2 linked regions of the Homo sapiens genome follow. Changing the gene in region 1 together with any one later gene gives a genetic interaction. Each region holds a gene or a part of one and is shown on either strand. Other genes may lie near its edges. The genes, in order: ING5 and CDC7.

Region 1 (3,820 bases):
AAGTTTGGTAGTACTTTTTGGCCGTTTGATATTTAACTCCGTTTCTTTTTTTTTGAGACGGAGTCTTGCTTTGTCGCCCAGTCCGGAGTGCAGTGACGTGATCTCAGCTCACTGCAAGCTCTGCCTCCTGGGTTCACACCATTCTCTTGCCTCAGCCTCCTGAGTAGCTGGGACTACAGGTGCCCGCCACCACGCCTGGCTAATTTTTTTTTTGTATTTTTAGTAGAGACGGGGTTTCACCGTGTTAGCCAGGATGGTCTTGATCTCCTCACCTCATGATCTGCCCGCCTCAGCCTCCCAAAGTGCTGGGATTACAAGCGTGAGCCACCTCGCCTGGCCCTAACTCTGTTTTTTTCTTTTTTTTTTTTTTTTTTTTTGAGACAGAGTCTCACTCTGTTGCCCAGGCTAGAGTGCAGTGGCACGATCTTGGCTCACTGCAACCTCCACCTCCCGGGTTCAAGTGATTCTCCTGCCTCAGCCTCCCGAGTAGCTGGGACTACAGTCACATGCCACCACACCCAGCTAATTTTTTGTATTTTTAGTAGAGACAGGGTTTCACCATGTTCACCATGTTAGCCAGGATGGTCTTGATCTACTGACCTCATGATCCGCCTGCCTAGGCCTCCCAAAGTGCTGGGATTACAGGCATGAGCCACCGCGCCCGGCCCTTAAACTCCCTGTTTCTAAACAACATGTTTTTGTTGCTGTTTCTTATTTTATCTCTCGTCAGTTTTAGACGTTGTTCAGACGTATATGGCACAGGCAGCTGTACTTCTCCAGTGGCCCCCACACCCTCACATGCCCTCACCTGGCTCCCCCATCTCCTGGCTGTAGGTTGTTAGAATTTGTGGTGAGACCAGTGATGGGACTTCCATTGGGCAGCTGTGTAGGTACTTTAACACTGAGCCATGCCACCTGCTGTGCTTATATGACCTCTTTGGAATAACTTTGTGTATTTCTTAGAGTTACTCATGGCCCTGTTTGTTGGCTTTGTTTTCTGCATTCGACCCTTGTCTCCCCAGCTGGGCTTTTCCTTGTGGTCTGTCAGGCTGTCTACCCTGACAGTTCTGTGTGTGCTTTCTTTCCGCAGAGCCCTCTGTCCTGGAGGCCACAGTCCTGATTGTTTCCATGCCAACTGCACACTTGTTGCCCTGAGGTTTTCCTGGGATCTCCTTTCACCCCTCTTCAGTGTGGGACCCTCTTCCCTGAATCTTAAATGTCTTCTTTTTGCCCTTGCTCTCCTGTTTTGATAGAGCCTTTCCTTTGGTAGGTTCCTGAAAAAAAGGCACATAGGAAGGTAGATTTTCTTGGCCAGGCACGGTGGCTCATGCCTGTAATCCCAGCACTTTGGGAGGCTGAGGTGGGCAGATCACCTGAGGTCAGGAGTTCGAGACCAGCCTGATCGACATGGAGAAACCCCGTCTCTACTAAAAATACAAAATTAGCCGGGTGTGGTGGCGCACGCCTATAATCCCAGCTAATTGGGAGGCTGAGGCAGGAGAATCACTTGAACCTGGAGGCGGAGGTTGCACCTGGAGATCGCACCATTGCACTCCACCCTGGGCAACAAGAGCGAAACTCCATCTCAAAAAAAAAAAAAAAAAAGAAAAAAAGGAAGGTAGATTTTCTTGTAACATTGCATGTCTGAAAATGTGTTTGTTCTAGCCTCATACTCAGCTGATAGTTTGGTTGGGTATAGAATCCTAGGTTGACAATTGTTTTCACTCAGGAAGTTGGCGACATTGCTGCCTTGTCTCCTAGCTTCCACGTTGCTGCAGAAAATCTGGTGCCGTTTGGATTCTTGGTCCTTTATATGTGTGATCTATTTTTTTTTTGTTATTCCTATTCAGAAGCTTTTGAGATGTTTCCTTTATCTCTGAAGTTTTAAATTTCATGATAATGTGTTTTGGTGTGGCAATTTTTTTTTTTTTTTTTTTTGAGATGGAGTTTCACTCTTGTTGCCCAGGCTGGCGTGCGATGGCGCGATCTTGGCTCAACACAACCTCTGCCTCCCAGGTTCAAGTGATTCTCCTGCCTCAGCCTCCCGAGTAGCTGGGATTACAGGCATGCACCATCATGCCCAGCTAATTTTGTATTTTTAATAGAGATGGGGTTTCTCCATGTTGATCAGGTTGGTCTCAAACTCTCAACCTCAGGTGATCTGCCCGCCTTGGCCTCCCAAAGTGCTGGTATTACAGGTGTGAGCCACTGTGCCTGGCCTGAGATTTTTTATTCATTATGCTGGGCACAGGTTTGTTTTTTTTGTTTTGAGATGGAGTTTCGCTCTTGTTGTCCAGGCTGGAGTGCAATGGCACGATCTCAGCTCACCGCAACCTCCGCCTCCCGGGTTCAAGCAATTCTCCTGCCTCAGCCTCCCGAGTAGCTGGGATTACAGGCATGCGCCACCACACCCTGCTAATTTTTTGTATTTTAAGTAGAGACGGGGTTTCTCCATGTTGGTCAGGCTGGTCTTGAACTCCTGACCTCAGGTTCATCCACCCGCCTTGGCCTCCCAAAGTGCTGGGATTACAGACGTGAGTACCACACCCGGCCTGGGCACATGTTTTGCAAGACTGAGATAGCTGTGTTTTTTTCCTTAGGTACAGCATCTTGACTAGGGAATACAGAGAGTTATTTTATTGTGAAATGTAACATATATTCAGGAAATGAATGTGCAACAATTATAGATTGCTTAACAAATATTACCAGGTGAACCTCTCTGTTGTCTGCTACCGAGATGGAGAAATCAAGCCCTTTGGCACCTGAAGGCCTTTGTGACCCTCCTAGTCATGACACCCCTCCCCAACCAAGGGGTGACCATCCTGAGTTTGGTGACAGTCACCTTCCACCTTTAACAGTAGTTTTCTTTTTTTTTTCTGAGACGGAGTCTCGCTTTACCATCAGGCTGGAGTGCAGTGGCACGGTCTCGGCTCACTGCAACCTCTGCCTCCTGGGTGCAAGTGATTCTCCTGCCTCAGCCTCCTGAGTAGCTGGGACCATAGGCACGTAACACCATGCCCAGCTAATTGTTGTATTTTTAGAAGAGACGGGGTTTCACCACATTGGCCAGGATGGTTTCCATCTCTTAACCTCGTGATCCTCCTGCCTTGGCCTCCCAAAGTGCTGGGATCACAGGCGTGAGCCGCCGTGCATGGCCTTCAACAGTTTTCTTTTGTTTTTTTTTTTTGAGATGGAGTCTCACTCTTTCGCCCAGGCCGGACTGCAGTGGCGCTATCTTGGCTTTCTTCAAGCCCCGCCTCCTGGGTTCACGCCATTCTCCTGCCTCAGCCTCCCGAGTAGCTGGGACTATAGGCACCCGCCACCACGCCCGGCTAATTTTTTGTATTTTTAGTAGAGACGGGGTTTCATCAAGTTAGCCAGGATGGTCTCGATCTCCTGACCTCGTGATCTGCCCGCCTCGGCCTCCAAAAGTGCTGGGATTACAGGCGTGAGCCACCACGCCTGGCCTAGTTTTCTTACCCCTCTAAACTGAAGGGTTAAGAGTTGTGTCTGTTTCTGCTCTTCATATTAATGGAATCATCCAGTATGTTTTCTTTTGTTTCTTGCTCTTTTTGCTCCGTGTCACCTTCTCTGGGAATCATCCGTGTTGCTGTGTGTGGCTGTAGTTTGCTCTTTTTGTTGCTGAGTAGCACTCTGTTGTCTGAAGGGACCACAGCTTATTTCTCCATTTTACTGAGGATTGGACATTGGGGTTGTTTTCTGTTTTCTGCTCTTATGAATGTTTCCCGTGTGGATTTCTTTAGGTGACATAAGGTTTGTTTAGGGTATTTAAGAGTAGTGTGTTCTTTCTTGACTGCTC
Region 2 (3,820 bases), on another chromosome or scaffold:
TTAAACTAGAGTTTGGCTTTGGCAGAAGGTATTACTGCTTTAAGCATTTAGTCAAAACTTGTTTTCTCCAGTTTTTTTCTGAACTTTTCTGGTGGAATTTTTTCTCATTTTTGGTTAGCTATTACTGTCTTTCTCTAGAGGAACATTTAGAACATTAAGGGCTTTCTGTCATTGCTAGAGTGTGAGCTCCATACAGTTAGCTAACTATTCTGACACATAGTTGATAGTGTAAAGATGTTTGTAAAGTTAACAAAATCATCATCAATGTAGATGATTTCAGATTGACTTATGATATCTTGTGACAGCTAGACAGCATGAGCAACAAATTAAAACTGTGATTTTAGCCAACGTACTTGTGCAGTTTACAGTTCTGAAATGGAGTTAGACACTAGAACATAACTGTTTTATACTTCTGTAATATATCAGGAAAAGTTCTAATAAAGTATAACTCAAATATTGGCCAAGCTAGGACTAATTAGTAAATTTTAATATAAGGTGACTTTACAGAAAAACCCAAGAAGACCTTAAACATTTTAATAGACAACAGTTTATTTACAGTCCAATAGCCATTCAGCAGTTTTTAAAGTTATGCTTCCGCTATTGCTTTTTGCCATACTAGCATTTTAGGACATCATGTTTAATATCATGAAAATAGAAAAATGAGACTTTTCTTTTACAGCTCATGAAGCAGTCAAAGACTGTGGATGTACTGTCTAGAAAGTTAGCAACAAAAAAGAAGGCTATTTCTACAAAAGTTATGAATAGTGCTGTGATGAGGAAAACTGCCAGTTCTTGCCCAGCTAGCCTGACCTGTGACTGCTATGCAACAGATAAAGTTTGTAGTATTTGCCTTTCAAGGTAATGTGTTTTGATGGTGTTATAAAATCACCAGCATGCTGCCATTAGAAATTGCATTGACTTGGGTGGATAATTTTGTGAGTGCAAGGGATCAGTTCAGATCAGTGAACTGCAATGGGCCTTGATGCAGAGCAGTAGTATGTTGAAGAGCAAATGATAACAGTTTTCATATATTATTTATTTAATATGGATATACTCTGGAAAACACATTTGCTCTTATATGCAAATAAGTGGGACGGGGTGGCTTTTAGAAGCTTAGAATCACACATTTTGATTGCTGATGTAGTCTTTTCTGTTTTCTCTTTTTATTCCCGCTTATGTGGAGTAACCAGAACCAAATAGTAGAGCTCCTCTTTTACTCCCACCTCCAACTCTTTGACTCATAAATTTCTTCCTTTCCTTCAAGGCTTGGCTTTCATAAAGCCTTTCTTGATTAACTCAAATATATAAGTGTATCTGTGATCAATTACTCCAAACAAATGAATTTTTATACCTGTGAATTGCTATTGGGTTCTATTTTTTCTATTATGGCTCTTATTATCCACTACTGCTTTTTATTCTTGGAGGTTATTTTAAACCTTTCTGGAGTAAGTCCGGGGAACTAGTAGAGGGGGTAAAAAACAGAAGAAGAAAAATCTAGGATTTTTATCACACTAGATTATCATTTACTTTATAGTAACACTTATTATATAGGTATCAAGGCAAAATTTACTGTGAACTAAATTGATGAATGTTATTTTTTAGACTTACATAGTTCAACTTTAACATAACTAGAGAAATCTTATTTCATCATAAGGCGTCAGCAGGTTGCCCCTAGGGCAGGTACACCAGGATTCAGAGCACCAGAGGTCTTGACAAAGTGCCCCAATCAAACTACAGGTATGTTGTACTGGAAATACAGAACCTAGTTAAAATGGATTGTTCCAGACGTATTTTATTTTATGATCTTTGTCTATTTATAACTAATATTTGAGTTCTTCTGCTTTTAATTATGTAAGCAGTTCTTGCAGTGTGGCATTCCTATTTTTGAGCTAATGCTATTCTTTATGAAAGTTTTTAATCCTAATGTTGCCTCTCTTTTTTTGTTTAAACAGTTTATTCCATAGATTACATTTTGCGTATTTATTTACAAGATGATCTTACCATCTTGTAAATAAATACGCAAAATGTAATCTGTGGAATTTTGCTGACATCACCTTTGTGGGGGAAAAAATTATGTTTAATAGTTTTTGCCAGCCAAAGACTTAAAGCATTTTATTTGCTTGCTTAATACCTCAAAAGTTTCCTGTGATGTAGATATATTTGTGTTTGATTAAAATTACTTTTGTTATTATATAAACAATATAATAGCAGTTAGAAGGTTTTGAAAAAGAAAAATGTCTTCCGTAATCTAAAAACTTACCATGGAGCTGGAATCCAGGAAACATCTTGAATGAATAGATGAATCCTGCTATTCACTTGGATTATGGGCTTTGAAGAAATGTATTCATTCATTGAATGTCTGTTCTTGCTTGCTAATGATAACAAATAAATAAATGAGACCATCTGTTCACACTCTAGTCAGGACACCATCAAATAATTATAAAATAACCTGTTGAGTATGGTAATAAAACTTATTCAGGGTATTTAAGGAGTATCTAACTATCCTAACCCAAAGAGATTATGAAAGGCAATTCATGAAAGAAATGACCTCTTAGAATGTAAATTGGGCTGAGAAGTTAGCATAGAGGCATGAGCCAAGGAACTCAAGAAACAGCATACAGGAAACTAAAAAAGTTTCATTTTGGCCAGACGCGGTGGCTCATGCCTGTAATCCCAGCACTTTCGGAGGCTGAGATGGGCGGATCACCTGAGATCAGGAGTTTGAAACCAGCCTGACCAACATGGTGAAACCCCATCTCTACTAAAAATACAAAAATCAGCTGGGTGTGGTGGTGCGCACCTGTAATCCCAGCTACTCAGGAGGCTGAGGCAAGAGAATCACTTGAACGCAGGAGGCGGAAGTTGCAGTGAGCCAAGATCGCACCATTGCCCTCCAACCTGGGCGACAGCAAGACTTCATCTCAAAAAAAAAAGTCCAATTTTGCTAGAATATTAAGATGCAAGTTGAGGAATGGTGAGAGATAAACCTGGAATGAGGTAGACAAGGTCAGACCACAGTTGTTACAGTTTGGACTATATACTGTAGATATTGGAAAGTTAAGTGAAAAAAGTGACAATGGTATATCCTAGATGGATCATTCTGGCAGGCGTGCAAACAGATTAGCTTTTGGAGAGTGGTGGCATGAATTTGTCCGGGTGAGAGGATGAAAATGTGAATGAGGGTATTGGTAATAGGAATGAAAAGAAAAGTGAAGGGTTAGAAAGGCAGAGCTTGGTGGATAATTGGATGTAGAATTAGGGTGTGGTATGGTGAGGGAAAAAGGCATTCAGGATGTTTACCAGATTCCTAGCTTGGGAGACTTGGATGTGTACCAGTAACCAAGGTGGAGAGTAAAGGAGAAGTAACTGGTTTATAGGGGAAGGTAAGGTTAGTTTGGGGTATAATTGGTTTGAGGTATTTGTGGGACATCCAAATAGAGATTTCCAGCAGAATCAAAGTTAAGTCTGATGCTCAGCGAAGGAGCTGGGCTAGAAATACAGATGAATGTCATCATTATATAAATGACAGTTGAAGCCATGAAGTGGATGGACCAATCAGGGAGAGTATACAGAGGGAGAAGTTAAAACTCTGAGGAATATCCGTCAGCACTTAAGGCTTGGAGAAAACATTGAAGGAGCAGGCAGAGGTACCAAAGGAGCTAAGAAAGGCAAGTAGGGCCGGGCACAGTGGCTCATGCCTATAATACCAGCACTTTGGGAGGCCAAGGCAGGCAGATCACTAGGTCAGGAGTTCGAGATCAGCCTGGCCAATATGGCGAAATCCCGTCTCTACTAAAAAGTACAAAAAATTAGCAGGGCA

Evidence for each region.
Region 2: changes in ING5 (region 1) and CDC7 are lethal when combined (synthetic lethality), as found in Homo sapiens cells (one large-scale study listed by BioGRID).

The regions. Positions count from the first base shown.
Region 1 is NC_000002.12:241,705,039-241,708,858, forward strand, and holds part of ING5 (inhibitor of growth protein 5), read left to right. Parts: intron 1-3,820. UniProt on the Homo sapiens protein: Component of the HBO1 complex, which specifically mediates acetylation of histone H3 at 'Lys-14' (H3K14ac) and, to a lower extent, acetylation of histone H4. Component of the MOZ/MORF complex which has a histone H3 acetyltransferase activity.
Region 2 is NC_000001.11:91,514,140-91,517,959, forward strand, and holds part of CDC7 (cell division cycle 7-related protein kinase), read left to right. Parts: intron 1-679; coding exon 680-858; intron 859-1,602; coding exon of another isoform or gene 1,603-1,612; exon of another isoform or gene 1,613-1,654; coding exon 1,655-1,737; intron 1,738-3,820. UniProt on the Homo sapiens protein: Kinase involved in initiation of DNA replication. Phosphorylates critical substrates that regulate the G1/S phase transition and initiation of DNA replication, such as MCM proteins and CLASPIN.